4 linked regions of the Homo sapiens genome follow. The protein of the gene in region 3 interacts with the protein of the main gene of each other region in a pairwise test. Each region holds a gene or a part of one and is shown on either strand. Other genes may lie near its edges.

Region 1 (7,845 bases), on a different chromosome or scaffold from region 3:
AGTGCAAATAATATCTGAAAGACAGTCCCACACAGCAGTTAGACTTGAAGTATATTTTGCTGAAGCCCTCAGAAACTCCAGAAAAGCAGAAATAATTATACAACAAACCTTTCTTAAGTATCTTCTACTTTGAAGACTGGAAGAATAGGGATACAAATTAAATAAGATACTTCCCCATTTTCAAGCAACCTGCAGTTCAGTAGGAGAAATAACACAGTTATAATGCAGTACAGAATCTGGGTGTCAGACATAAAAATGTCAGACTCTAGCAATGTAGGATTCTGAGATGAGAGAAGAAATAGTCTTTCAAATTAGCAAAAATAAGTTTTTAAATAGAAATGAAACTACAAGCAGTTAAACATTCAGAACAATCTTAACTCCAGTTGTTCTCATCTTTTAACTCTTGCTTCACACATATCCTTTTCTCATATTCTCTTGAGTCACATTTTCGGTTTGATCTACCACACTACTAGCTATGTGATCTTGTGCCCTGGTTGTCGCATTTATGAAGGATAATAACAATACCTGCTTCGTAGGGGTGTGATTAGAAAAATAGGTTAGTATCCAGAACAATGCCTGGAAAAATAGCTCATACTTACTGAGCACTTAATATTTCTACTTGATATAAAAATGCTGTAATTGAGTAAGAACAGACTTTAAAGACAGGATTTTTTTTTTGTCATGCTAGATCTATCCATGAGCGTCTAATAAAGCCTCTACATTCAGAGAAACTAACATTCTTTTAAACTGAGATTCTTGAACAAGTGATTTTCCTTTTCTTATTTGGTGATCATCTTTCTGAAGTCTGATTTTCATTTTTACCCCTCAGCTTTGTCATTAAGTCACTAATCACCGAATTCAACACTTTTTAAAATTCAAAACCTGCCCATTCTATGGCATTTGCTGCTGTGTATCACCCTTTCTCTTTAAAAGTCTTCTCCCTTGGCTTTCCTGAAGTCCGTTCCCCTGTCTCTTTGTATCTCTTGTGTCTGGGTCTGCTTCACTCGCTTATGTTGATGTTCTTTGGGGTTTGTTCTCCTGCCCCTTTTTTCTTTATGAATTCATCTATCTAAATGTGCTCGGATGTCTTGTGAGTTCTAGGCCTAGAGTTTATCCCCATGTGAATGTCTCATAAGGGCATCTCCAAACCCAGTAAGCTACACAAAGCTCATTATCTCCACACATTTGCCCAAACCCAGTTTTACTAACTTTACTCCTCTGTTCCCTTTATCTAAATGACACTATTATCTGTCAAGTGCCAAAGACAGGTTTTTATGTGAGAGAGTAGATGCCTCCCTTTTGTGTACTTGTCACCATGTCCTGAATTATTTCTTACCTGTTCTTCACTATCCTCAGTCACTGACTAAGTCAGCCAGCTGGTCCCTGACCATTAATTGCCCAGTTTACTATAATATCTGTCTCAAAGATTTTTTTTTCAGATTATAAAAGTATTGTATGCTTTTTGTAAAAAAATTTTAAAAATTAAGATAAAAAGCAAAAAAGTATTTAAGTTACTTCATGTGTAGTTCTTGGCATACAGTCAGCACTGAGAATATATTTTTGTGCCACGGTGCTACAAATAGAACTTATTTTGCAAGCATTAAGTTTGGAGGAGATTTGTAGAGAAATATTGTTCTAAAAGAATTGTAGGACTAAATAATTTTGAAATCGTATATAGAGCCTAAATAGTGTAAAGTAGATACTTAAAATTCAAGATGGGTTCCAGCCACTGCCTATACTTTTCATTTGCCTGTTAATTGTAATCTGGTTGTGCTTTCCTATCTATTTTATTCTCTATTCTATAGCCTTCGATTTTATTTTCTATTCTATAGCCAAATTTCAGGAATATCCCCCTGCATAGGATCTAGACTATAAAAGCAAGCCAACATCATAGAAATAATCTGTAAGTACAACCCATCATTAGCCATGTTGTTTTATAATGAGGCGATAGGCTCAGAGAATTGATATCATTTGCTCAGCATATTTGTTGAATGTCAGGAGGAAACCAGGCCTGTGAGGCTTTGGAATCATAAATAGCTAGTTTTTAGTCTTTCCAGGTTAAATAGCTGGATTTTATTTCTGTCTTCCAGGTTTGTAACTGTAAGTTACCTAATCTGTTGCCTCAGTTTCTTCCATCAATAAACCAGTGCTATCTTTACTCCTTCCTAGGGCTAGCGTGAGGATTAAGTGATAACAGCTAATGGAGCCCCATCTGGCATGCATTAGGTGCTCTTGAGTTCATCATCAGCTTCTCTCCTACCAGTTTCACATAATTAGCTAGTACAGGAGTTATTAACTTGCCATCCATGGATCCTTTGCAAATGGATGGCTTCATAGATCCTCTGAAACTCTAGCCCAAATTGCCTGTTCTTGTACTTTTAAAGGAAGAGGGTCATTGGCTTTGGGTTTTGGGACCCAAAACATTTTAACCCCTGAGTTGGCAGTAAGGCCAAGGACCCAGGGCTCTTGGTGCCTCCACAGCCAAACTGACTGGGTAGAATTTAGAATTGTTTGAAATATTGGAGGAACATTTTATATATATGTATTTAAAGCATTTTAAAGGACTTCAGGTGTAAAGAATTAGTTTATATTCCTTGGCTCATGACACGTTTGTTTAATTGGTCCATTTATAGTTTTAATAATACAGTAAGTACCACCTAACCCTGTGCATAACCCTGTGGGCCCCTCCATTCCTTTTTCCTCTGTCCCTCACCTGAGGCAGCTATTTACTGAATCCTATATTCATCATTCTCTCGGTGTCTTTTATAGTTTTATTGCATCACATAATTTAAAACTGTATATATTACATGCCCTATCTTCTGAAAATTTTTTCATTTTATAATACTGAAATTTATATTATGTGTCACTGAAGTTTTCTGATTACTGCATAATATTCCATTTTGTGCATATGGCATAATTTATCCATTCTCCTGTTGGTGGTATATGGGTTGTTTCCAGGGTGATACTCTTGTGCTACTCGCTATTGTGAAGAATGCTGCTGTATAGGTGCACACCTCCTGGCATACGTAGGCAAGAGTTTCGATTGGGTTTCACTAGGAGTGGACTTGCTGGGCTGTAGAGTATGTGAATAGGATAAATGAATATTCAGCTGATGAACTGTTTATTTTTCAGAGTTTCCCCCCATCCTCTAAGGTTTAATAAGCTGCTTAGCCAGGCATTCCCTAGGACTGTTATTTTCAGCCTCCATTTAGTGCTTTGGAACACTTTTACATCATTCTTGGAATCCATTTTGTAGGACCCTTAGATAAGAATTCCTTTTTGGTGTTCTCTAATTGAAAGTGCATATAAATAGAATACTAATTTATACTGAACCACATTCTATAGAACACAGCAGTGATTCTCAAACTTTGTCAGAATTACGTGGAGGTTCTCCCACCACTAAAGTTTCTGAATCTGTAGGTCTGTAGTGGCACTTGATAATTTGCATTTTTATTGAGTCAGGTGATGTTGATGCTGCTGGTCCCAGGACCACACGTTGACAACTATAACCAATGATTGAATTTGGGCTAAATCATTGAAAAAACGATGAGTAGATTTATTAATTATGTTTGGTTTCTTTGTTATTTCCAATGCCTTTAGTAGATGCTATTACCATTTCATTATTTGAGGAGTGAAATACCAATAAATAGTAATTTTAAAATTTGATTTGGACTTCTTAGCTGACTTTTAACCTTAAAAGTTGATAGACTTCTAAAAGTGCCTCTTTTTTTTCTTGTTTCTTAATAATCTTCTAAGAATATGATTGCTGCTATTCCTGTGTGTACATTGGAAGAATTTGAAACTGATACACTGTTTGTAAATTGCCATGCTCTTGATTCATACCCTGAATCACCTTTCTCCTTCTCTGAGCTGTTACCAATCAAGATTACGTTGAAAGCCCTTCCAAATTGCAGCATGGCCAAAGTGTTGACTTGTCTATCATACTAAAACAGCAGCAAACCTTACACTAATACATCCTTGAACTTGGACATTCATTCAGCAATCTTGACTGGGCTCCAACCTTGGAGTGAGTGATGATGCCTGTTACCGAAGTGGGGTACAAAGAATATGCTGACAAGCCTGCCAAATGAGAACTCAGTTGTGGTGGGAGAGAAATTTTATTCCTGTTAGATCTGTGCTGTAATACAGTTCATGTTAAGTGTTCTAGAAGCACAGAGAGAAGGGATGGCAGTGCAGGGAAAGCCTGGCAATATATTTGCTAGGTTTTTCAAAATTTTTTTGAATTGCTACATCCAGAATTTAATATTTTGTCTGCTTTTGTGTAGTTCCCATTCCAGTTATTCAATTGGCATAATTATTTGATTATAATTTAGTTTCAGGTGAGGTGGTAAAGAAGAGAATACTTGTTCGGTTTGAAAAAGCAGCTTGAGGGGAGGAAGAGCATTAGGACAAATAACTAATGCATGCGGGGCTTAAAACCTAGATGACGGATTGATAGGTGCAGCAAACCTGCACGTTCTGCACATGTATCCCAAAACTTAAAAAAAAAAAAAGCAGCTTGAATATTGTATCCTTCCCCCTCTCCTGTACTAAAGATAGTAGGGTGTAATGTTAAATGTGCTAGACTACCAGGGTTTGAATTTTGGCTTTGTCATGTTCCAGCTCTGTATCCTAGGTCAAGAAAACTCCAGGCTTCAGTTTCCTTATCTGTAATGGGGGAAAGTATTTGGATCATTGTAAGATTGAATAAGTTCGTACACATAAAATGCTTAGAATTGTTCCAAGTAATTGCTACATGCTTAATAAATTATTTTATTGTTATTAAAATTAGGTAGAATCTCATTTGCTAAACATTGGGTTGTAAAGACAATGTGTGCACATTGTTATAAAAATGTGAAGAAAAGGCAGTGCGTGATGGCTCACACCTGTAATCCCAGCATTTTGGAGGCCAAGGTGGGAGGATCACGAGGTCAGGAATTCGAGACCAGTCTGGCCAACATGGTGAAACCCCATCTCTACTAAAAATACAAAAATTAGCAGGTGCGGTGGCATGCGCCTGTAGTCCCAGCTACTCGGGAGGTCAAGGCAGGAGAATTGCTTGAACCCAGGAAGCAGAGGTTGCAGTGAGCTGAGATCACACCCCACTGCACTCCAGCCTGGGCAACAGAGCAAGACTCCGTCTCAAAAAAAAAAAAAAAAGTGAAGACAAAATAATTTTGATATAAATAGCTGTACTCAGTTCCATATTGGGTCCTATGAGAAATGTAAAAATCAAAAGATAATAGAACTTGAAATTCTTTAAAGGTCATCTAGTTTGACTTCATAATTGAAACCCAAAGAAATTATGACCGGTTCAAGGTTTCTCAGTACATAACAGAAGTGTTGCTGAGAACCATGGCCTCTGATGCTACTCAGTCCAGCGCTCTCTCAGTACCCTGTGCAGCTTCCCTGAAGTGACAGCGCCCTGGAAAACTAACAGTTTAATTGGCAGCCAAGTCCAAAACAGGTGAAAACATTAGCAATAAAAAGTCAGTATATAATGGAATATCAGATGGTGTACATAGATTAAGTCCCTACCGTATTTAACTTTGTGAGCTGCTCTCTTGAAGCGGAAATGCACCTTCTTAGTAATTTCATTCATTGAAGGTTGAAAGATGAAGAGCATTTGTTTTTGAAGAGGGTGTTAATAAAGTCAATTTCCCTCTTTCCTCCTACCAAGGTTGGATTGTTCATTAAGCCAGGGGGAGAGTCCACTTTTGCCAGGTCTGCCAGTACTCCATGGCTTTGCCCTTGATGATAGTTGGGGAAAAGTCTGGCCTCTGTATTTCTGTTCCCTGTCTTCCTGATGGGCCAGATTCCCACAGACATTCCCTCAGGTATGAAGACTGCATTACCCTTGCTCATGGGTATGCGTACATATGTGGAACAGGTGCTAGAAGTGTACCTGATTGGTGGGATTTGTCTAAGTCGAGATTTCCACTCAAGGACAGGGCTGCTACTTTTTGGGATTGAGCTAAGAGTACTTTCACACATTATCTCATTTAATTGTGCTTGAATACTCTGCTGCTAAAAATTTTACAGAATAATACATGCTCCTATAACATTCAAGCTATATAAAGATATGCTATGGAAGAGGTGAAAGCCCTGCTCTTCTACCCCTCCCTGTACCCAAATTATTCCATCCCAAGAAGTGTCATTTGTGACATTTTGTAACTTTTCCAGAACTTTCCCCTAAATATATATAGGTAGTTTGAGTTAACAAAAAATGGTGATCATACTGTTCTAATTAACCTGTAACTTCTTTTTTTGTGCTATACATGCATATGTGCTTTAATCTTTAATAATCCCAGAATAGCCTGGCTGTACCATATGTGTTGGTTTTTAACAGTTTGTCCATGATGGATATTAAGATTGTCTCTAGTTTTTTGCCATTTCAAATAATACTGCAATTCAACAATGTCCTCAATATATATTATGCTTGCTCTCTTATATGCCTAGAAGTATGATTGTTTAGTGGAAAGATTTACACATTTCAAATATTTGTATACTGTTGGAATTGCCCTTTAAAACAACAAACTACTGATCTCTGGTAAAGTGCTATTTCCCTTACATAATTGACTATCTTAAAAAACTGTAGGACATTTGTATAATTTTCTAACCAGTTTTTGCCCAACAAGACTGCTTGCTGTTTTATTTTATGCATTTTTTATCACTCATGCCATTCTACCATTGGTTTTGGTGGTTCAGAATGGTGCTGTTTATCCCCATTTCCTGTGCTTATCATCACCATAATTGCCTTTTAAAAACATAAATTTTTTTTCTTAATATGAAAAACACTTTCATTTATAGAAAATTTGGAAGACACAATAAAATAAAAGTTATATTTTTGTGCATGAAAGTACATAAAGAAAGGAATGAAAGTCCTGCCCTTGCCTTTTCCCTATTTTTTAAGTTGGTTTTTCCTTGCAATTTTTTCTGTCCTTATACCAACTTTTGTGTTTATAGAGCAGAATTTATGCCTGTACATATCTACTGATATTTGTTTTTTTTTCCTGAGGACTAAATAAGCTCATATTAGATATGGTTTTGTAACTTTTTTACATTACTTAACAAAATATCATGGAAGTCTTTCCAAGAGTAAAATAGCTAATAATAGCTAGCATTTATTGAGCACTTACCATGTACCCATGACCTTTTTTTAAGCCCTCTACATGCATAAGTTTATTTAATAAAATTATTAAAGAAATTTGGTAACTAAATTTACTGTTTAACCACATAATTTTTTGAGGTAAACTGCTTTTACTCTCCTTTTGCAGATGAGGAAAGTGAGGCCCAAAGAAGATTTATGTTCAGGACCATTTAGTCTGTAAGTGGAGAAGCCGGGGTTTGGAACCAGATGGTCTGGCTTTGGATTTTAACTCTTTTACTGTACTGTTTCTCATACTGCAGCAATGATCAGTTCAAAGATATATAAGGAATTTAAAGAACAGCATGTAGCTCCCTGCTTTCTAAGCTGAGGATGGCTTTCTAATGGCAGATTTTGGCCAGGAGCTTCATTGAGATTATATCCCTCAACCCAGAGATACACATGAATTATTGTACCATAATTTATGTGTTCACACTATTTTATGCAGTCTGAGCCCAACTGGGAGATAGATTGAGTTCTGTTTTTTCTGGTTCTTAAAGGAGTAGTCGTAGGAGATGCTGCTTCCTGAGCCCCTCACCCACTGAAGCAACAATATGTGATGGTTAAGAGAATGGGCTCTGCAGTCCAATGTGGGGTTGGGGGGTTGGAATCCTGCCTCTGCCACTTGCTAGCTCTGTGACCTTGGGCAAATTACCTAACCTCTCTGCCTCAATTTCCTTACCTGTAAAAAGGAAAAA
Region 2 (7,845 bases), on a different chromosome or scaffold from region 3:
GGCAGATCACCTGAGATTGGGAGTTCGAGACCAGCCTGACCAACATGGAGAAACCCTGCCTCTACTGAAAATACAACATCAGCCAGGTGTGGTGGCGCATGCCTGTGATCCCAGTTACTCAGGAGGCTGAGGCAGGAGCATCATTTGAACCCGGGAGGTGGAGGCTGCGGTGAGCCAAGATCACGCCATTGCACTCCAGCCTGGGTAACAAGAGTGAAACCCCGTCTCAAAAAAACAAACAAAAACCCTTCCTGCTGCTGGAGTGGAGAGTCATATTTTGCTCACTTCCAGTATTGTTTTACCTTCATTTTCTTTGAGAAAATTTCTGCAAAAGGATCTAAGTTGATCTTAATTCTCTCTTTATAATGTAAATATTTACAAAGTAATTTTTTTGAAGGCTTGGATAGTAGAAAAACTTAAGTTTCTATTTATGTACCTCATGTAAACCCAATTCCAATTTCATCACCATTTCAGAAAGATGACGATTTTCTAATTTGAGTGACTCCAGCTGATCCAAAATCTCCTGAAAAGGGGAAAACAGAAAAAAATAAATATAACATGTAAATCACATGCATCTTACAAAATTTTTCCACATGGAATTTTCATTAGGCTAAGTCATATTCTTCATTTATATATATATACATATACATATTTATATATATATATACATATATATATGTACGTGTGTGTGTGTATATATATATATATATATATATATATATATGGACTTTCTAAAAAGATTTTTAAGATGTTATTAAGGTGAATGAACATGAATGGGATGAAGATATCATTCTAATAGGATAAATCAGGTGACAAAGCAGCAAAGTTTCAATCCACTGAACCCCTTAAATCCCTACCCATTCTCCTGTGCTGGCCTCCTCCAATTTGGCTTCTACCTGCAACGTCACATGGAATTGTACTTTATTCACAAAATAACAACTTATATTCAGTTCTCATTCCCCTCAGCTTTTGTGCTTGACCATTCCCATTTGAAAATATTCCTTCTTTCCTTGGCTTGGCAAAAACTATCTGATTTCCCTCCTCACTGCTCCTTTTTTTAAGCTTCATTCCAACATCTTTTTTACACTAAATGAGAAGTATCCTAAGTTTGGTTTGAGTCACTTCTCTTCTTACGCTATGCTTTCTCACTATAATCATTAAGTCTCTCAGGGGGTTTCAAATGTCACCATGAAGAAAGGACAGCCACAGCTAAATGCCTAATCCTGATTTTAATCTTCAACTCCAGGCCTTCTGTGGAATTGACTATTACCCATACAAAATTCCAGCCTTTATTCCAAACAAATGTGTCAAACCAATGTCCTCTCCACCAGTTTCCCCAGTCTGTGTACTTTTCACACAAATTCATCATCCTTCACCAAACTTGCTCCCTGTCTTTTCTCTATTTCATTAAAAAGCATCACTTTCCATCAGTTGCCTAAGTTTAAATCCTGTGGAGCACCATTCCTTAACTCTGCCTACCTCACCTTCCCTGCCAATCAAATACAATGCCCAGTCATTTTTACCAGCCCAGTATCTCCAGAATTCATCCATTTCCCTCTGCCTCCCTTGCCCACTGCTCAGGCCACCATCTTACCACTGTAACAGCATCTGGGTGCTCTGTCTCCCTGCTTATTCTCCATTTAAGGACCACTGAATTTTACTCCTGCTTGCAGCCATTCCCTACTGACCTCAAGGTCACAGTATAACTCCTTTACGTGGCTAACGTAGCCCTTCAGCAGCCAGTCCCTGCTTTCCAGTCTCATACCTTCCACTCATCCCACTTGTACTCTAGTTTCAACCACAGCAAGCGTGTTTCTACTCTCTCTTAGAGACCTCTGTATTTTCCTGTGCCTGAAACACTTTTCCTCCCCATCACCCAGCTTGCTCCTAACTTAGCTTTGCTATCACACCTTCTGGAAGGCCTTTGCAGCGAGTGGTCTAGATTCAGGCTGCTTGTGATCTCTAGTGACTCTCACCATACACCACTGATACAGTCACTTTACTTGTCTGTGTCTACTCTCACCTCCCCACCATGCTCACTAAACTCTTTGCTAGCCAGCATACTCTCAGCTCAAAGCAGGTATCTAATAAAAATTCACTGAATTAAATATTATGAAAATTATGTCTTTAATCAACTCCATCTTTAAAACAAATTTCAAATTTAAAAAAGGTTTTGTTCAGGCTTCACCTTATGCTCTACTGCTTTGTCTTCTGCCTTTTGCATCTCTGCTCTGAGTCGCTTTTCCATGTCTGAGGAAGAACCTTTGGTGGAAGCAATAGTGATATCTCGCTGATGTAACTCCTGAGTTAGATGGGAGATTTCCATCTTCATTCCTTCTAGTGCAGAACTGTAACTTTGTTCACCCTGTAAAATCTGTTCTTTCAACTATAAAGAAGCAGAAAAGAAAGCACCAAAAGTTAAGAGAAAGCATTTAGATAGAATAATATGTTACTAGCTAATAAAATAAAAGTTCACCTTATCTCAAGACATTAAATTTCTCTTAAATTAAATCTGCAGAAAAATTAGCAATTTACCAAGTTGCATATCTGTACTGAAGGTCAGGTGGTTATACCTACAATCATTTATTATACCTCAAAACAGGGAGAGATGGGTTATTCAAGTGCTGAGGACCAGAATCAAGGTCCATGCACACAATTTAGAGGAGAGTACTTGTGACCTTCATTCTTTTTTTTAGTTGTGAATCTAAAAGTTTTGCTCATATGGTATCTTAGTCCACAGGATAACAAATAGAACAAGAGGAAGTAAGGAACTAGAAGTAATCTTAAAGAAGTAACAAAAAATACAAATCAAACAAATAGGACAGTTAGGGCCCATTCATATAGACACAAACAGCTCTGCATACCTCAATAGCTGACAAGGATACTAACTACATCATAGCACAGGAGACAATACATAAATACTATCTTTAGGCAATAAGAAAATATTAAGTGACAGTTCATATTTTTTTGCAAGCAACAGAGTGTATGTCTTTTAGAAAACTTTTCATCAAAACATGTTTAAAATAAAGTTTTTGAGTTCAAAGGGGACAGCCTTCAATTATCTTAAAAATATTTATTGGGCATCAGGGGCGATGCCAAAGAAAGAAGGCACTTTCCCTATGCACATTCCACAAACTCTTCCACTCCTAAATATCAAGTGGTCCCTTGAACTACATTTTTTTCTCATTAAAAATAACCCCTATAATCTCCCAATCCACAGCTTTGTCCATAAACACATACAATTTTGCAATCCTAGGTATGCAGATTTTTACCTTCTTAATCTCTGCTTTGTATTCATTGTTATGTGCTTCCATCCTCTTCAGTTCTTCATATTTTTCCATTAGTTCTTGGCTCAGCTGTTTACACGTTGCACTCACAGATTCCAAACTGTATGACAAAAATAAGATCCCATACTTAAAACCAAAATCCTGAAACCTATAAATTGGACTATCTAATTTACATTCTTGATATCCAAAAAATATCCAGCCAATATCTTAAACATCACCTCAGTCATTTAAAATATTACTAAAAAGCCAATCAATAAAAAAACTGTGATAAAAATGTAAACTGTTGTCCCAACGTCAAAAATAATAAACTTAATTTTAGTCAAACGGAAGAGTACACATATACTTCAATAATAACAAAGACTATCTCAAGTACTCCAAGTATTCCAAAAGGAATAAAGCAGAAAATATGTGTGTGTATGCATGTTTGTGTATTTAACATGTAGATAAAAGTAAGAAAATACTTACTGGTTTCCAAAACCAGAAATAAATGTAAAAACAAAAAATGTATTACTTAAAGATAACCTAAAAAGTGTAAAATGATATTTCTCTTGTTGTTTGCCTAAAGGTTAACAGTTCATGTTAAAAGCAATTTTATCTTTTACATACAGAAAATGTCAGTGTACAAATGATCATGATTCATGTGTTTAAAACAAGATATCACACTCTTCCCAATCAAAAAGTTGAGAGGTTATGAAAAACCAAAAAAAATTCTATAAGTACGACAATGACAAGTGTTTAGGTGGGTATGGTATAGCATTAGTCAGGATTCAATTAACACCCAAGGAAGTAACAACACCACAGCAGAACAAAAAGGATCACCATGTGTCAACTGTTACCCCTTCCTACCCTGCTTCTGAGGTGGCAAGGAGGAAAACCTAAGTGAAGGGCTGCTAAACAGGTGAAAGGTAAAGAAGTAGAGTCAGTATAGACAACTCTTTTGAAGAATTTGGTCTTAAAGAGAAGTACAGAAATGTGGAAATAACTTGACGGAGACATAGGATTAAGGGATGGTTTTTCCCCCAGATGGGTGATGTTACAGCGTATTTTATACCAGTGGATAGATTCAGCAGACAGAAAGAACTTGATGATGCAGAAGAGAAAGGATATAACTACAGAAAAAGGACACAAGTGGAGTGGTTGGTCTTAGAAGTGCAGAAAGGCACAGGTATGGGCAGACTGGTAGATTTGATGACAGAAAGATTAAGAGGTTCTCCTTTAATTGCTTCTGTCTTCTCAATGAAATAAGAACTTAGGGCAGGGTGCGGTGACTCATGCCTGTAATCCCAGCACTTTGGGAGGCCAAGGCAGGTGGATCACCTGAGGTCAGGAGTTCAAGACCAGCCTGGCCAACATGGTGAAACACCGTCTCTACAAAAATATAAAAATTAGCCAGGCATGGTGGTGCACGCCTGTAATCTCAGCTACTCAGGAGGCTGGGGCAGAAGAATCAATTGAACCGGGAGGCGGAGGTTGCAGTGAGCTGAGATTGTGCCATTGCACTCCAGTCTGGGTGACAGAGCGGACTCCGTCTCAAAAAAAAAAAAAAAGAAATAAGAACTTAGGCCATTTGTGGATACTAGAAAAAAATCTTATTTTTTTTACTATGACTATTACATTCATTTACAATATGATGATCAAAAATTCATTTTAACAACTTGAAATTTTTGAAATGTGTGTATAATTATGTACCTGCCTTCAAGACAAGTCACCTCTGCCTGCAGAAGGTCCTCACTAGTATGGGTAAAATTCAACTGGGAGAGCACACTGTCTAAGTCCCCCTGCCCTTGAGAGGTGTACTTCTTTTCTGCCAGAGATTCTTCCCGTGGCCTATGGAAAGACATAGGATGATTGTTAACGCCTTTATCTCTGCAAACAAAAATAATGCTCATCTAGTCTGTGTTTCCCCATCATTTTTGGTAACCTCTTTGGAACTCTTCAAGTTTGTCTCCTGCTTTATAAAAAGAATATTGGGAGAGGAAAGAAAGAGTCAAGAGATGCTGATACTTCAAAAAGTAGCAATTTACTCCCTTCTTAACTGGGATTTGGCCTTTTTTCAAGGGAAAAAGACAAAATGGCAAAATCACTTCAGTGACACTTGAAACCCTGTACCAAAAAAACTGAAAAGTTACAGGAGAATTCTGGCAAAAATAAAAGTGTGCATCAGACTTAAATCAAGCAAGAGGGCTAGCCCAATGGCTGGCTGCTATTAATGATAAGCAGCTACTAATCACAACTTATTCCACCAACAAAGTGAGGCCTCCAGGAGACATGGATGACAATTCCCTGCACATTTGGATTTTCACCAAGCATGCAAACTGACCTTGGTTTCTAACTTTCTAAACATGAGAGTCTCTGTTAGGGACCCTAACTGGTGGCAGAAGAAAATTAACCACACAAAATTTTATAACACTTTAAAAACCTAACTCAGAAGTTAAAGCCAATTAAGAAAATCCACAATATGATCAAACATAAAATTATGAATATGCAATATGAAAACTAGTGCTTGGATGGGCGTGGCAGCTCACACCTGTAATCCCAGCACTTTGGGAGGCTGAGGTGGGCAGATCACCTGAGGTTAGGAATTTAAGACCGGCCTAGCCAACATGATGAATGCCCGTCTCTAAAAATACAAAAAACTAGCCAGGTGTGGTAGCATGCACCTGTAGTCCCAGCTACTTGGGAGGCTGAGCCTGGAGAATGGCTTGAACCTCGGAGGTTGAGGTTGCAGTGAGCTGAGATTGCACCACTGCACTCCAGTCTGGGCAACAGGAGACTATCTGAAAATAAAATAAAAATAAAAATAAAAATAAGCCTAGTGCTTAATACCTAGTCATTAAGTGGCTAAGATGAATAATATTTAAGATTAAATTTACCTTATAGCTTCTACAGCATGTTGAGTGTTAGTTGCCTTTACTTTTTCTTGTAACTTCTCCTTTTGTATTCTGGCCTCATGTATGAGATTTTCTTGAGACTGAAGAGCTGCCTTCAATTCTCTCTTTTCTTCCTGCAGAGCCTGCAAAAAAGTCAAATATGATTATAATTTTCCTTCTTTTTAATTCCTGCAGAACCTGCAAAATACTCAGAAATTTCTAAGCCAGCTATTATTACAATTTTTCTATTTCACGAGAAGCCAGGAAGTCAGACTATAAGTTACGTAACAATATTACAATATTGTAAATATTGTAATAAAGTCACAATATTAGTAAAACTATCAATATCTGATCCATCATTTATAAAGTAGGGAAGAAAGTATGGATTGTAGAACCTAGTTCTAGCTTAATAACACTCTCTTAAAATACTCATACACACACTTCCCCCAATTATAGTGATTTTAAAACATACCTCTAATAGTTTTTCAGATTCCCTCAATTTTTCTTCTTTTTGCTGCTGCTCCTGTAGGACAGTCATACTGGTTCCAACCAAGTCATTGACCCTCATGGTGAGGCGCTCTATTTCCAACTCATTGGCACAGATAGTGTCATTAGCCCGCTCCAGTTTACTGCTTAAGTGTTGAATTTCTGATTGGCTAGAAAGTTCCACAGACTCTAATTTCTGTTTCCGATTGACAAGCTGAGCCTAGAAACACAGACTATCAATCAATAGGTAAAAGGGAAATGATAAAATAATCAATGAATAAGACTAAAATGAAACTATTATTTCCATAAAAACATAAAGCATTGGCTCACTAAAATATATATATATATATTGCGAAGGGGTAAGAAAGAATTGAGAGGCTGGGAGTGGTGGCTCACGCCTGTAATCCTAACACTATGGGAGGCTGAGGCAGGCAGATCGCTTGAGCTCAGGAGTTCGAGATCAGCCTGGAAACATGGCGAAACCCTGTCTTTATAAAAAATACAAAAATTGGCCGGGTGCAGTGGATCACGCCTGTAATCCCGCACTTTGAGAGGCTGAGGTGGGCGGATCATGAGGTCAGGAGATTGAGACCATCCTTGCCAACATGGTGAAACCCGTCTCTACTAAAAATACAAAAATTAGCTGGGCGTGGTGGCGCGTGCCTGTAATCCCAGCTACTCGGGATCGGGAGGCTGAGGCAGGAGAATCACTTGAACCAGGGAGTTGGAGGTTGCAGTGAGCCGAGATTGCGCCACTGCACTGCAGCCTAGTGACAGAATGAGACTCTGTCTCAAAACAAACAAACAAACAAATAAAATACAAAAATTACCCGAGCACAGTGGCATGGGAGGATCACATGAACCCAGGAAGCGGAAGTTGCAGTGAGCCAAGATCGCACCACTGCACTCCGGCCTGCGTGACAAAGTAAGAACCTGTCTCAAATAAATAAATAAATAGAAAAGAATGGATAAAGTAAAGGGATTCCTCAGGAGAAGAGATGCTACAGTATTCTACCTACTCACACAGAAATTCAACCGCAACCTGGCTGGAATTATTTCCTATTTAAAACATAGGAAATAGGAACTATAATGCATTATTATATTTCTGATGGAAGTTTAGAAATTAGAATTTCAAAATCACTAAATTTGTAGTTTAAATTCCCCCCCCCACCTAGAGCATGTTGTAATTATTCTGTTTTAAC
Region 3 (7,934 bases):
AGGAAGAACAACATGTCATTTAAAAAAGAAATATTTCAAACACACAGAAAAGTATGGGGAATAATATTGAGTCCAGTCGGATCTCAACATTACCCCACAGCTAAGTTAGGTCTGATTTATTTATTCAGAATATTAGAAAAACTGCAAACAGGCCGGGCGTGGTAGCTCACACTTGTAATCCCAGCAGTTTGGAAGGCTGAGGCGGGTGGATCACCTGAGGTCAGGAAGTTTGAGACCAGCCTGGCCAACATGGTGAAACCCCGTCTCTACCATAAATTAAAAAATGAGCTGAGTGTGGGGGCACGTGCGTGTAACCCCAGCTACTCGGGAGGCTGAGGCAGAAGAATCACTTGAACCCAGGAGGTGAAAGTTGGAGTGAGCTGAGATTGCCTTATTGCACTCCACCCTGGCCGAGAAGAGTGAAACTCCATCTCAAAAACAAAAACAAACAAAACACACTATCAACAAGTCACAGCTGAAGCTGTCTGTGCAGCACTCAGCAATCCCTGCCCTCCCTCCCTCCTCCACTTACAGCCAGTCACCTTAGTTTGATGGCTTTTTATTCACATTCATGTTTGTATACATTTACCATTTACTTATTATCCATAAAAATATATATTCTTCTTTTGCATGTTTTAAAATTTTATATGAATGACCTCTGTAGTTAACTTTCTGCATGCAATTTTTTTTTTCACTCTGCCCCGATGTGTATGAGGGAACAAATGCCTGAGGCTCTTTCCCAGGTAGCTGAGCTGAAAAGCAATTGGGCTTGAGGAGACCCTTTCCAGCCCCTTCCCATCTACTCACCCTGATTCCCACGGTTAGGGTCATTATCAAAATCATTCCCCTGGAAGTCTGTGACCCGTTTATTACGCATGAAAGATGGGAGGATGGCCTTGAAACCTAGAAAGAAGCAAAATGTTTATTCCTTAAGAGACAAGCTTGGGCCTGGTACGGTGGCTCATGTCTGTAGTACCAACACTTTGGGAGGCTAAGGCTGGAGGATTGCTTGAGGCCAGGAATTCAAGGCTGCAGTAAGCTATGATTGCACTACTGCACTCTAGCCTAGGTGACAGATTCAGACTGACTCAAACAAAAAAAAAAAAAAAAGAAAGAGACAAGCCGAGAGAAGGTAGAGTGGGTGTGTGTGGGGTGGGGGTAGGATGGTTGCCGGGATGCCACAGAGACAGTTGGGCTCATCAGAACAGAAGCCTAAGAGAGAGAAACGTGCAGGATCCAGGTATGAGCTCCACTGTGGCCAGTCACTGCCCTCAGCCCTGACAGGATATAGAAGAGCAGAACACCCAGAAGCTGCCTTGCGATTTTTCCCTACACAAAAGGAAAATGTGAGGTACTTTCTGCAGCCTAAGAAATAGCCAAAGCAGGAAAAGGGATGCTCATGTGTCCCCAGACTTGTCTGTACCTAGAACTTTCTGTTACCTAGTTTAGTCATGGCCTCATACTTTCTCTTCATATACACATAGACGATTTTCTCCGAGACTTTCATCTTTTCCCACTCTTCCTTAGAGAAGTATTTGGCAATATCATCGAAGGCCTACAAAAAAAAAAAAAAGGAATTATGGCAGGGACTCAGCTAGGCATGTCTGCCATTCAGCTGGAGTCGCTTCCTGTGTGCTGGATCTGGGAAGTGGGGATAATCCTTCCTGGTTGATGCCACGGCTAACTGACAGAACATGAGGGACCTTCCTAGCTTCACCCCTGCCACACTGTCGGGCTTTAATGCTGCTGGCTGGCTCTCCTCCCACCTTCCAGAATGGACTGAGAGTCACCAAATGTAGTGCAAGGTCACAGACTTGTCTCCAGGGATGCTAGGTGATGACAGAGTGAGGGTGGGAGGCTCCCAAGGGTCCAGATCTCCCCTGAGACCCTGCTCCTTGTCTCCAGTATCTCTGTCCTCCCCTCCTCAGAAACCGGGTCACCCCACACTGTCCCCTGGGTCACTACTCTGCTCCCTCTAGGTCACCTCACCTTTTGTATCTTCTCTGGTATTTGAGCACCAACCGTGGGTCTCCTTGCAAAGGTGTCATCTCCGTTCATGGCACAGGGAGTAGTCTGACCTGCAAGAGAAACAGATTGAGACTTTCCAGCCGCAGGACCTTTGGTCTTGTGGAGGGAGAAATCAGTGAAGGCCGGCCACTCAGTCACCTGGAATCAGGTGCTGCATTTCTCCATCCGGGGCTTATCTGTCCCTGAGTAAGGATATGGGGAGAAATCAGACGAAAACCAGGAACCAGGGGTCTCTGGGAGAAGTATTGATAGGGGATGACAGGTTTCCTATGGGCAAAGCAGCCTTGAGTCTTTGGGAGGGGGTTGGCTAATGTTGTTAGTAATTTCCCTGGAGCTAGGCTTCCCCTGAAAGATGTATGGACCCTTGTTGGGGAGGCAGGGACATGACTGTGTAATTTTATTCAGTGGGGCATGCTGACACCCCCGCTCAATAAATAAAGGAAGGGAAGTTAGTCCCAGAGATAACGTGGTCTCTTTGGTGATGGATCTGATCAGGCAGAGGGATGGGGGGTTCTGTTCTGCTGAAGAGAAATGAGCATCGCTAATATGAATGTGTTCAGAGGCTATTACTGGGTGATTTGTAAGTTATTAGAACGAAGAGAGCTAGAATTTCTGAGACTACAAGAGCCCGCCATCACTTAGAGAGAATGTGGGGCATTTCAAGTTGCAGCAATCAGCCAGGCGCAGTGGCTCAGGCCTGTAATCCCAGCACTTTGGGAGGCCGAGGCGTGCAGGTCACTTGAGCCCAGGAGGTCGAGACCCGGCTGGGAAACACAGCAAAACCCCCGTCTACAAAATAAACAAAAAGTTAGCTGGGGTTGGTGGAGCAGGCCTGTACCATCCCAGCACTTTGGAAGGCCAAGGTGGGCGGATCGCCTTAGCCCAGGAGCTTGAGACCAGGCTCACAAACGTAGCAAAACCATCTCTACTAAAAAAAACAAACAAACAAAATTTAGCAGAAGCGGGGTGGTGCGCGCCTGTAGTCCCAAGGCCTAGGTGAGAAGATCACTTGAGCCCAGCAGGAAAGATTTGAGTGATTTTTTTTTTCAGACAGGGTCTCGCTCTGTTGCCCAGTCGGGAGTGCACTGGCGTGATCATGGCTCACTGCAACCTCCGCCTCTTGGGTTCAGGCAATCCACCAGCTGTGGCTTCCAAAAGTGCAGGGATTACAAGTGTAAGCCACCACCCCAGGCCCAAATTTCTTAAGTTACTACAGAGTTCCTAGGAAAAATCCCATACCTGAAAAAGTTAGAAACTGACAGGAAAGATTTGAGATGGCGGTTAGAAACTGACAGGAAAGATTTAAGATGGCGGCCTGCCTCATATACACTCCTTATTAAAACTAGATAGCAAATGCACCACGGAGGAGGGGAGGGGTAGGAAGAATGGAAAAAGAAAATCAGTGTATTCTTACTCTGATTTTGGAAGAATCCAAAGAGAAAATCAGACCGTGCGTACTCTTGAGTATGGAAGAATCGAAAGAGAGAGAAAATCAGAGCATGCGTACTCTGAACTTAAAGTAGCGAATCCCAGGGGATGCTTTAGGCGGGAAAATTAGAGTCTCCACCCCCACTTTGAGAAGGTTGTGTCCCTGGAGCCGGGACTGATAGAAGCCACATCCGCTTCGCTTGTTCCGCCTACTGTTCTGACTTCTAATTGGCCAGATGGAGTTCACTAACTGCCCTGATTGGTCCATCATCCTTGGGCAGCGACATTGCAGAATAATGTCTCCTCCTCCAGCCACACCTTGTCGCCACTGCGAAAAAGTGGGTGGTCCTCAGGCGCCGTCAGATTTTGATCTCTCTGAAGACTGTTCCTGGATCTTGGGTTAAAAATCTGGATTCTAGTCTGAACTGTGGGAAGAAAAAAATAGTCAATCTGTGATTTTTCTACTTGAAAGCCACAATGTTTTCCAAACTAGCACATTTGCGGAGGTTTGCTATAATTAGTCGTGGAGTTCATTCTTCAGTGGCTTCTATATCTGTTGCCACTGAAAAAACAGTCCAAGGCCCTCCAACCTCTGCTTACATTTTTGAAAGGGAATCTAAGTGTGGTGTGCAGAATTACCATCCTTTACCTGTAGCCCTGGAGAGAGGAAAATGTATTTACTTATGGGATGTGATTGTGGTATTGGTTACATCTGCCTTGGCCAATCCTCCCGCCTCTGTCTCGGGACTACAGGCGCAAACCACCCCACCCCCACTAATATTTTTTATTTTTTGATTTTTTAATAGAGAAGGTTTTGCTGTGTTGGCCAGGCTGGTCTTGACGTCCTGGGCTCAAGCGATCCTCCCACCTCGGCCTCGGGACTACAGGCATTCACCACCCTGCCTACGCTTTTTTTTTTTTTTTTTTTTTTAAGTAGAAACCAGGTTTTGCTATGTTGGCCAGGCTGGTCTCATTGGCCAGGTTGGTCTCATCGTCCTGGGCTCAAGGCATTCTTCCACCATGGCCTCGAGACTACAGGCATGCACTACCCTGCCTACGATTTTTTTTTTTTTTTTTTTTTTTTTTTTAGTAGAAACCATGTTTCCCTATGTTGGCCAGGCCGGCATCAAGCTCCTGGGCTCAAGGGATCCTCCTGCCTCAGGACCGCAGCCACGCACCACCCTGCCCAAGCTATTTTTTGTTTTGTTTTGTTTCGTTTTAGTAGAAACCAGGTTTCGATATGTTGCCCAGGCTGGCCTCAATCTCTTAGGCTCAGATGATGCTTTCATCTTGGCCTCAGGACTATAGGCGTGTGCCATTCTGCCCTGCTCATTTTTATTTTCATTTATTTATTTATTTATTTATTTATTTATTTTAGGAGAGGCAGGCTATCGCTTTGTTGGCCAGGCTGGTATCAACCTCCTGGGCTCAAGCAATCCTCCCACCTTGGCCTCAAAACTACAGGAGTGAGCCACCCCACCCACGCTATTTTTTTGTTGTTCTTGTTGTTAGTAGAAATGGGGTTTCACTATGTTGGCCAGGCTGGCCTCAACCTCCTAGGCTCAAGCAATCGTCCTGCCTTGGCCTCGGGACTACAGGTTCACACCACCCCGCCCCCACTAATATTTTTAATTTTTCTACTAGAGACAGTTTCGCTATGTTGTCCAGGCTGGTCTCTACCTCCGGGACTCAAGTGATTCTCCCGCCTCGGCCTTGGGACTACAGGCATGCACTACCCTGCCTTTTGCTATGTTTCCCAGGTTGGTCTTGACCTCCTGGGCTCACTCAATGATTTGAACCTGGGAAGCCGAGGTTGCATTGAGCTGAGATCACACCACTGCACTCCAGCTTGAGCGACAGAGCAAGACTGAAAAAAAAAAAAAAAAGAAAGAAAGAGCAAGAGAGAGATCAGCGGAATCTCCGTAAGAACAGGGAGCTTTGTGGTATTTTAACTTACCCTTGTCCCATCTCGTGCTCCCAGCTTGGTTCTGTTCATTGCTGATGAAATACAGATAGGATTGGCCAGAACTGGTAGATGGCTGGCTGTTGATCATGAAAATGTCAGACCTGATATAGTCCTCCTTGGAAAGGCCCTTTCTGGAGGTTGATACTCTGTGTCTGCAGTGCTGTGGGATGATGGCTTAATGCTGAGCATTAAGCCAGGGGAACATGGGTCCACATACGGTGGCAATCCACTAGGCTGCTGAGTGACCATCGCAGCCCTTGAGGTTTTAGAACAAGAAAATCTTGCTGAAAATGCAGAAAAAAAATGGGTATTATCGTGAGAAGTGAACCCATGAAGCTACCTTCTGATGTTGTAACTGCCATAAAAGGAACAGAATTATTATTATTATTATTATTTGAGTCAGAGGTTCACTCTGGTTGCCCAGGATGGAGTGCAATGGTGCAATCTTGGCTCACTGCAACCTCTGCCTCCTGGGTTCAAGCGATTCTCCTACCTCAGCCTCCTGAGTAGCTGGGATTACAGGCATGCACCACTATGCCCAGCTAATTTTTGTATTTTTAGTAGAGACGGGGTTTCGCCACGTTGGCCAGGCTGGTCTCGAACTCCTGACTTCAGGCGATCCACCCGCCTCAGCCTCCCAAAGTGTTGGGATTACAGGCGTGAGCCACTGTGCCCGGGAGGAAAATAATTATTAAATGCTATTGTTATTAAAGAAACCATAGACTGTAATGCTTGGGAGGTGTGTCTATGACTTCGAGATTATGGACTTCTGGCCAAGCCCACCCATGGTGACATCATCAGGTTTCGCCTCTGCTGGTGATCAAGGAGGATGAGATTCGAGAGTCCAGTGAAATCATTAACAAGACCATCTTGCCGTTCTGAGGGTAGCAGCTGTTTTCAGTGGTTCCTGGGAGCCGGCTGGAGACAGGTGGTCCTGTAAAAGCTCTGCTCTAAATGTAGGCACATTCCACTCCCATGTGTCTTCAAAATCTTTTTGTGTATATATGTTTTTTCAGTTGATACATAATAGGACAATGTTTATGAACCTGACATTTGCTTTGTAGTGTTAAGAGAATGTAATGGCATCTATATTCAGTGAAAGTGTTTTGATGTGCACGTGTACTTTATAAGGTGAAATGCATCTGTATATACAGACAGCCTTTAAATCACATCCTTCAGTATACTTTATATATGCTTTTATAATTTCCTTGCTGGTATAAAGGTTTTGTATTTGAAAAAGATATCTCTAGCGTATTACATAAAAGGCTTCACCTTATAAAGTCAAATCATTGTTTTCATTGAATTTTAGGAACGATCAATGGTTAAGCATATAAAAAATACTAGTTTTTTTGTTTTGTTTTTGTTTTTGTTTTTGTTTTGAGACGGAGTCTCACCCTGTCACCCAGGCTGGAGTGCAGTGGCTCGATCTCCGCTCACTGCAAGCTCCACCTCCTGGGTTCACGCCATTCTCCTGCCTCAGCCTTCCGAGTGGCTGGGACTACAGGTGCTCACCAAAACGCCTGGCTAATTTTTTGTATTTTTAGTAGAGACAGGGTTTCATCGTGTTAGCCAGGATGGTCTCGATCTCCTGACCTCGTGATCCGCCCGCCTCATCCTCCCAAAGTGTTGGGATTACAGGCGTGAGCCACTGTGCCCGGCCTATAAAATACTAATATTAAGTAAACTTTATATTGACCAACACCAGGATATAGTCTATGGATGTCATTATTTTGAATTAAGAATTAGTGTTTAACATTCCTAAATTGTTTTGAGTGCTTGATTATAATTTGTAAAAAAAAGTTTACTTTTAATATTTCTTTACATTTTAAACAAAGCTTGTATTTCAGAAAAAAAAACAGACAGAACATGGCCGGGTGCAGTGGTTCACGCTTGTAATCCCAGCATTTTGGGAGGCCGAGGTGGGCAGATCACTTGAGGTCAGGAGTTTGAGACCAGCCTGGCCAACATGGAGAAACCCCGTCTCTACTAAAAGTACAAAAATTAACCAGGCATGGTGGCACCCGCCTGTAGTCCCAGCTACATGGGAGGCTGAGACAGGAGAATAGCTCAAACCCAGGAGGCAGAGGTTGCAGTGAGCTCGAGAGCGTGCCACTGCACTACAGCCTAGGAGACAGAGTGAGAATCCCTCTTGAAAAAAAAAATGTACAGTACATTTTCATCACCGCAATGCTATCCCTTGTGCTACTCATTTTTAGTAATACTCTCCTCCCATCCGCCATCCCTAATCCCTGGCAACCACAAATCTGTTTTTCGTTTCCACAATTTTGTCTTTTCTACAATGCTGTACAAGTGAAATCTTATAGTATATCATGTTTTATGGGCTTATTTCACTCAGCATAATTCCATGGAGATTTCTCCAAGATATTGATATTTGTGTATCAATAGTTCATTGTTGTTGTTGTTGAGACAGAGTCTCACTCTGTCACCCAGGCTAGAGTGCAGTGTCTCGGCTCACTGCAACCTCTGCCTCCTGGGTTCAAGCAATTTTCCA
Region 4 (7,845 bases), on a different chromosome or scaffold from region 3:
TTTTGGTAAATATTACAGTATTTTAGTAGGTAAACTCTTCTTCTTTTTACCATATTGGATATCTGAATTTTATGCTTTTCTTCACAAAGAAAATTATGAGTTTAAAATCATCCTTTTGATTGTAAACTTTTTGAGACTTATCTTTGTAGCACAAGAGTAGCAAGTAACAGAACTTAGTAAATACTTTGCGAATGGGTAATGTGAAATCTGAACTTGCATAGTAATGAACACAATTCATCCACATTGAAAAATTAGCGGATTAGGAGTAAACTGAGTCACTCCTATAGAGCACTAGATAATTCTTAACTGATATATTGATCTACATGAGGCGTTTTTATTTATTTTTGATTTGTTAACATTCCTCTTTTGATGTATTAATCTGCATGCGTGTATATTATTTAAAGTTTCTTAACATTTCTCTGTTTGCTATTTTAGACAAGTTGCTTTGGCAGATGCCATTCTCATTAATAAAACAGACCTGGTTCCAGAAGAAGATGTAAAGAAATTAAGAACGACAATTAGGTACGAAATGATAAGTGTGTTAAGTGCCTACAGATCCATGTTGTATACACAGAATATTTTTTACTCTGATTGTTGCCCTGTAGAAACTTAAGGTATAAGGTTGAGCTGCTTCAAGAACGTTAGGGAATCACATATATTGTTGATGGCTAATTGTTATATAAATGGTAATACATAAAATTAGTCCCCAGTGCTTGCAGAATATAGTTCACAGTTAATAGACTGATATTCAGGGTCTTCGCACTCCATCTTTCTTTTCCTGTCTTCTCTTTGACTCTTTCCTAATGTCAGTCTTCCCTAACTTTACCCAGGATGGTTAATTCACTTTCCCATGGATGCATCCTGTCAGTTCCTGTCTTTACTCGTAATGTATTCTCACTCTGCCAATCCCTGAGTTCTTTCTTGTTCTGCTTTTTTTTTTTTTAATTTATTCTATAGAGCCTATTCTGTCTCTCCCCCCTTCCTATGTGAAGTCTTCCCTGACTCAAGTGGTCTCAGTTTTCCCTGAACTCTTGTTGACTTCATCTTCCTTAACTGTCAACCATGCCTTGTCTTCCAGCTTGCTTTAATATCTTCTTTGTCCATAGCCAAGGCTGATCAGCATAGGACAATCAGGACAATATGAATGATGCTCAAATATGTGCTAACAGTCATTTTGCTGACTGTTCTGGAGACTCCCATTCCTTTTGAAAACAAAGATGGGCTTTTCAAATGAGGTTATAGTTCAGGGGCTTTGTTTTGAATTATTTTGTAAGACCTGAACTAATAAAAGCCCTATACAGAGAGACATTCGGTAGCTATTAGTATTGGTTATCTTTAATGTGTACAATGCTTTGAGCGTGATGGCTCAAAATTACTATTCTTAGTATTTATAAGTTCTACTGACATTAGATTTTGAATCTGTCATCTCAGTTCATATAGTATATATTATCAATTGAATCAATAAAGGTAAGGCTCATTAGGAGATTATTTGCCATGATTAATGATTGTGGAAGAAAGAAATTCATATTTTTTCCACATATTTCATCTTATTTTAATAGTAATGTCCTTAAACTTTACTATAAAAAAATATAATGTCTCCACGTGGAGGGTAGGTATTGTTGCGTAGTGTTGAAGATCACAGACCTTGGAATCTGCTTGGGTTCTAATCCTTGGTCTGTTTCTCATTGTCTTCTTAGGGAGCTTATTTACCCTTTTAAAGCCTCCTCTGTAAAAGGCATAATGCCTATCATAAGTTTGCTTTGAGTATTACATGAGACAATGTTGGTAAACTTTGCACAGTGCTGACACATAGTAAGTGCTCTGTTAGCTATTATTATGTAATTTTTTTCTTAGCTTACATAGTAAGTTCAAGGTATAGTAAAAAAGGGAAGAAAGAAAAAGATGGCTGATTTTGAAAAGGAGAAAGTGATGAATGAAGATTGCTTTTACATTTTTTGACACTGGTCTTCTAATCTTGTTTCTCTTCATAAATCTTGTGCACCATTGTGATTGCTAAGAAGAACACAATCTATTTAGCAAATGTTTTTGGCATAAAAGGAATGATAATTATTACTTGACTTTTATATCCTTATAGAGACCTAAGCTAAATCTCTGACACTGACAATATTGACTATTAGCCAGCTTGTTAACAGTACTAGAAATGAATTTGGAAGAAGCAATTTGATAAATTACACACCCTTTTGGCTTTTACCCTCCCTTTATATCAGACTTGTGACTGACTCAGAATGATATTTGGGGAGGTGAAAAAAGGTAAACATGTTTGAGAGGAATTAGCCATCAGACTAGAGTGTATTCAAAAAAGAAGATTTAAGAATTTTGTAAAATAGTGGAGAGACTTGCCTCAGAATCATTATATGTGGGAAGCCTTACCCATGAGAACAAACTTGAACAAGTAGCAAGAATCTTGGGTAAGTAACCCTAAAGACAATTGAATTCATGATAGAGAATTGATGATTGATGATAGGCAATGGAAAAGATAAATAGATGAGGTGTACAGTGTGTTGAAAAGAATTTAACAGGTACTTTTTGGTGCCATACGAAGCCATATTCTATAGTATCAAAAGAGGGAGAACAGGCATAACGGGTAGAGAGCCTAATTAGGTAACTGACGAGGTTATTCTATAAAGGAACCTGGGATGTGTGACTTAGAATTACTGTGAATACTAAGGACAGGCTGGGGGCAAAGCAACTTGCAACTAGGTTTTTATTTTTAGTGTGTATATAGCCATTTCTACCATGTATGCCTGAGGAAAAAAGTGACCACCGTAAAAATTTTGAGTATCTACTCATTTTTAAGAACACTAGGATAACTGACTATTTATGAATGATTTTTTCTAAAGTGAAGTGTCTTTTTATTAACCACAAAGTAGCCCTTAATCTGACAGTTGTGCGAATTTTTGCATATATGTTTTATTAATGTATGAGTGGAATATATGTGATTTATTGTTTGAAGGAAAATCACAATTATTTTTTAAAGCAAGTTTTGTTTTTCTGTTTTTAATTTTTTTCTGGTTCCAGATGTATTTGGGTATGCTTATTTCCTGTTTTAGAAACAATATACTTTGTATACTTTTTTAAAAAGTTAATTTTTACTTTTAAACTTTGTCTTCCTCATTTATTATTTATTTCAGATCCATAAATGGACTAGGACAAATCTTAGAAACACAAAGATCAAGGTACTTTAAAAAAGCTATTCCTATTAATAACAAATCATTTTAGTTATTAATAATAAACATTAAATAATTGACAAATATGCTTGATTCTAATATAAGAAAGATCTAAGTGCATTTAAAAAGAATTGGATCCAAAATGTTGTTTGGAATGCTCTTAATAAGTTAGTTTGGCATATTTGGCTAGTACATTTGCCTGTCTTCAAAACTAAGAATACAAAGCCATGATAACACTGTGTAAGTGTTTGCTTAATGAGGAAGAAAAGACTTCCAAACACTCGAGAGGGTAACTCAGTACAGAAATCTGAAGTATATTGAGGAATCTTAATTTGAAGTGTTTAAATGGCTTTTTAATATTTAAAAAGCCTTCTTAGTGTTTTATAGTTGCCAAAAAATACATGGAGTCTTTACCTTGAAGTTCCTGACAAATTCTTTTATTAAATTTTGACTTTCATTTTCTCTAGGTTCTGTTCCTAAAACATCTGTGAAGTGTATTTCTGTAGATTAAATTCTGTTTTCCATTGAATGTTATCTTAATTTCAGAAAATTTCTGTGCAGGGTTATTTTATTAAGCTCATTTTTTTTTTTTTTTTTTTTTTTTTGGTGAGAAAGGCTCAGCAGCTAATAGACTCAGCAACAGGCAGCCAGGAGCTCTGAGGCTCACAGCTGGCAGTCTAGTTCCACTCAGTCTCTACTGGAGAAATTCTTTCTTTGGAAGTACAGCAGAGGCCTTAGGTGAGTGGCTTGTCTGCTATGGCAGAGATTAGAGGTGCTGCCAGACTGCCATAAGTGTTAGGCAGTAACAGCAGCAGCTGCTTATATGCATGTGAACAGCTGGGGAATTAATTTGGTATGCATTCTCAGGAGCCACTCATCTGCTGGCAGAGGTAGCAGAAGAATGCCCTTAGTGTAAGTCCTCTACAACCATACACCAAATGTGCTCCCTGCATTTCAAATTCCATTGTAGAAAGTCTCTGATAATCTCACTTATACTATGAGCCATTCCTCAGTATCTGTCCTCTTCCTGTTAGTGTTCTACAATTCCTTTCTCCTTAATTTTTCTCCGCTTTACAAAATGTCACACAGACAAGTGCATAATACTTAAACAAGCTTTTAAAAATAATGCTCATAAATAGCTTTGGTTCTGTCATAATATTCGTATTTATAAACATTTTAAGTCAATTCTCTTCTTTTGTTTTCATTTCAGAAATATCCATGTCCTGAATAAAAGTTGTGTCTTGATTAGTTTATTATGTAACAATTTAGTGTGTTTGACATTTCTAACTTTTATTTCTAACATTTGCTTTATTATAGAACAATAAACATGCAGTGATTGATTTTTCTTACTTCAAGTGGATGAGTGAGCAAGTGACTAAAATCTTCTGTGAATTATTCAGTGTATGGTGCTTGCCAGTGCATCTGAGAATCTAGGGACTTTCTGAAATAGTACTTCCTTGCTATGAGGACTGAAGTTGCATTAGAATCCTTTTCAATGAAGATCAGATGTCCTGAGTACAATTCTTACTATTGGGTCCTGAATCTTACATTAAATATTCTCTCAAATTCCTTGAGGCATAGCAACTTGAGCTTACCAGTTTAGAAACTGGAGATTTGGGCTGGGCGCGGTGGCTCACGCCTGTAATCCCAGCACTTTGGGAGGCCAAGGTGGGTGGATCACGAGGTCAGGAGATGGAGACCATCCTGGCTAACACTGTGAAACCCCGTCTCTACTGAAAATACAAAAAATTAGCTGAGCCTGGTGGTGGGCGCCTGTAGTCCCAGCTACTCAGGAGGCTGAGGCAGGAGAATGGCGTGAACCCGGGAGGCGGAGCTTGCAGTGAGCTGAGATCGCACCACTGCACTCCAGCCTGGGTGACAGAGCGAGACTCTGTCTCAAAAAAAAAAAAAAAAAAAAAAACAAAACCGGAGATTTGGTTAACAAAATAGTCAAAGTCACTCTTATAGAAGTTTTGTTTTATTTTTTGTTTAAAATTTTTTTACCATTTTGTAGCTGACAAGTACTGACAATAAACTGCTATAAGCATGTGTAGAAAAAGGCTCACCTTGAGTAGTTAAGAGTAAGGAAAAGGAATAGTGTGTAGCATCGTCTTAGTGGTAAGACTTAAGTTGATTTAGTAGCAAATGGAAGTACTAGTGAACCACATAGATTTCAGAAGTAGGAGTAAAAGGTTAGAAGATGTGTCATTTTAATCTTCTCTAGACTTTTTCTTAATTTTTAGAAATGTAAGTGGACTGAACAGAGGAAAACCAAAACACAGCTGGTCAATAATAAGTTAAATTAATTTGACAAACTGCCTACTATGCATTTCATAGCATTTTAAGGACTATATAAGCAATGGATAAGGCAAAAACTCTGCCTTTAAGGAGATCAGTCATTGGGGGGAAACAGAAGCAAACAAACAAAAAGGCAACATAATAGATATTAATATTAATACAAGAATTTTAAAAGCACAGAGTTCTATAATAATAGGAAAATAGAGGGAATGATTGCTCAACTTTTCTTGAAAAAGAGTCAGGAAAATATTGACCGAGAAGACAGTCATTGACCTGAGTCTTAAAGAATGAATAAGGCTTTTACAGATGGAGTAGGGTAGGGATAACTTTCCAGGTATAAGGAAGATTTTGTATTCCAGGGACCTTTGAATTTTTTAGAATGGCTAGAAAACTTGGTATTATGTAGCACAGAAAAAGTGGTATGACTGAAGAGATAGAGAACTTACCACAAAGGGTCTTGAATGCCATGATACATAGTTTGGATTTTCTTCTGTAGGGAGCAAGGAGTTAGTGAAGGATTTTAAAAGCAACATGCCTCTTGGGAGGTAGATTCAATGTGAGGCTAATCTCCGAGGTATAGGAAATACAGGAAGGAGGAGCAACAGGTCGGGTAGTGGTGGAAGCAGGTTTGGAAAATGTGATTAGTTTTGTAAGCGTTTTTGAGTTTGAAGTGCCACTGGGGAAGGCTTTTGGAAATTTATTTCCAGAGTTCAAGACTGAGCTATCATTGCAGTTTGCTCAGCTATTTACTGAGCTATCTACTGTCAATTTGGATAGTATCTACAGTTTGCATTGTAGATACTGGATACTTGGATTGGCTGGTGCACCCTGTTTGTGAGACTCACTGGAGTTTGAAGAGATGACCACTGGAAAATATCCCTAAGCAGTAGCTGCAATTCCACCCCCACCTTGGAGAGCCAAAACCCTCTTCATTTTCACTCTCCTGTCCTTGGTCTTAGGCTACTTAAAGCAGCCTTTAGACATAGGGAAAAATTGAAAGCCTCTCTTTTAAGAAAAACATTAGGTACTTCTGGAATAGAGAGTTCAAGAAATTAGGAGAAAAATGAACTTTTGAAGCTTTTTCTTTCCCTTTTTTGTTTACTTCATTCTCTTACTCAGTTTTAAAATGCTGGTAATGGTCTTTTTTTTCTTTTTTTTTTTTTCTTGGCGATTTTAATGCTTTGGAAAAGATCTCATGGTTTTATCTCCAAAGGAGGAAATTAATTTGATGCCATGGAAATTAGTTTTCTAGTCGTATGCCTTGAATGAGTGAAGAATTTGTTTTTCATGGTGGTACTAAATTTGGGGAAAGCTATAGAAACTTTCATCTGGAAGCTTACACTTTTCCTCTTTTTTGAAAATTTGGTGAGAGACTTGGATATTTTATTGTTTTCTGTAAAAGAGTGTAATTTGTTGTACAGGTCTAATATTGATCCTTTTTTGGAAGTATGGAAAGAATCTGAGTATAAAGCAGAATTACCTCTGGATGGCATGTATTCTCAAGGACACTGTCACAGTGAAACAGTTTATTTAGAAGCTTGTGTTTCCAAAGTGTTGAATTTGATATTCACAAAATTGGCATGTGTAAACTTTATTAAACTTTAAGCTATTTCCTAAGATGAAGATGACAAACTTGGAGGGAAACTTCATTCATTTGGTTTATTTTTATTTTTATTTTTATTTATTTTTATCTTTTTGAGACAGAATCTCACTCTGGTTTGAGACAGAATCTCACTCTGTCCCCCAAGTTGGAGTGCGGTGGTGCGACCTCGGCTCACTGAAACCTCTGCCTCCTGGGTTCAGGCGATTCTCCTGCTTCACCCTCCGAGTAGCTGGGATTACAGGTGTGCACCACCACACCCAGCTAATTTTTGTATTTTTAGTAGAGACGGTTTCGCCACATTGGCCCGGTTGGTGTCAAACTCCTGGCCTCAAAGTGATCCGCCCACCTTGGCCTCCCAAAGTGGAGCCGCCGTGCCCCTTGTCTGTGACCTGTCAATATAAATATGCTCAGTAGCGGGGGGAGGGGGAGGTGAAAAAGGAAATATGTTTAATATTAAGACTTTGGCCTTTTAGTGTAAACTGATACTCAGAAATTTCTTCATAGAACATTTGCTTCTTTGCTTGATCATTTTTCTAATTCTGTACATCTAAAATGCCCAGAATTTGAGTTGCTGTTATAGTCTACTAACATAGAACTTTGGAGTAATAAGATGGGAATTTGTCTCTCTTTTGCCAAGACAAGCATTCGTAATCTAACACAGTATTGTTGCCACGAGTACGAGTATGTGATAGACTGTTGAGAATAAAGAAAGCAGGCACAGTTGGTCAGTCCTAAGATAAAGGAGATGTTTTTCTT

The links.
Region 1: the proteins of SSX3 (region 3) and SSX2IP interact in binary tests that used the Homo sapiens proteins (3 or more experiments, as listed by UniProt).
Region 2: the proteins of SSX3 (region 3) and CEP63 interact in binary tests that used the Homo sapiens proteins (3 or more experiments, as listed by UniProt).
Region 4: the proteins of SSX3 (region 3) and ZNG1A interact in binary tests that used the Homo sapiens proteins (3 or more experiments, as listed by UniProt).

The regions. Positions count from the first base shown.
Region 1 is NC_000001.11:84,679,820-84,687,664, reverse strand, and holds part of SSX2IP (afadin- and alpha-actinin-binding protein), read left to right. Parts: intron 1-5,197; exon of another isoform or gene 5,198-5,467; intron 5,468-5,680; exon of another isoform or gene 5,681-5,837; intron 5,838-7,277; exon of another isoform or gene 7,278-7,327; intron 7,328-7,845. UniProt on the Homo sapiens protein: Belongs to an adhesion system, which plays a role in the organization of homotypic, interneuronal and heterotypic cell-cell adherens junctions (AJs).
Region 2 is NC_000003.12:134,544,604-134,552,448, reverse strand, and holds part of CEP63 (centrosomal protein of 63 kDa), read right to left. Parts: intron 6,864-7,845; coding exon 6,630-6,863; intron 6,301-6,629; coding exon 6,161-6,300; intron 5,115-6,160; coding exon 4,977-5,114; intron 3,388-4,976; coding exon 3,273-3,387; intron 2,387-3,272; coding exon 2,189-2,386; intron 524-2,188; coding exon 437-523; intron 1-436. UniProt on the Homo sapiens protein: Required for normal spindle assembly.
Region 3 is NC_000023.11:48,353,192-48,361,125, forward strand, and holds the start of SSX3 (protein SSX3), read right to left. Parts: upstream 3,513-7,934; 5' UTR 3,443-3,512; intron 2,079-3,442; 5' UTR 2,059-2,078; coding exon 1,990-2,058; intron 1,556-1,989; coding exon 1,441-1,555; intron 904-1,440; coding exon 808-903; intron 1-807. UniProt on the Homo sapiens protein: Could act as a modulator of transcription.
Region 4 is NC_000009.12:147,386-155,230, reverse strand, and holds part of ZNG1A (zinc-regulated GTPase metalloprotein activator 1A), read left to right. Parts: intron 1-435; coding exon 436-522; intron 523-3,152; coding exon 3,153-3,197; intron 3,198-3,803; exon of another isoform or gene 3,804-3,926; intron 3,927-4,505; coding exon of another isoform or gene 4,506-4,524; exon of another isoform or gene 4,525-7,845. UniProt on the Homo sapiens protein: Zinc chaperone that directly transfers zinc cofactor to target metalloproteins, thereby activating them.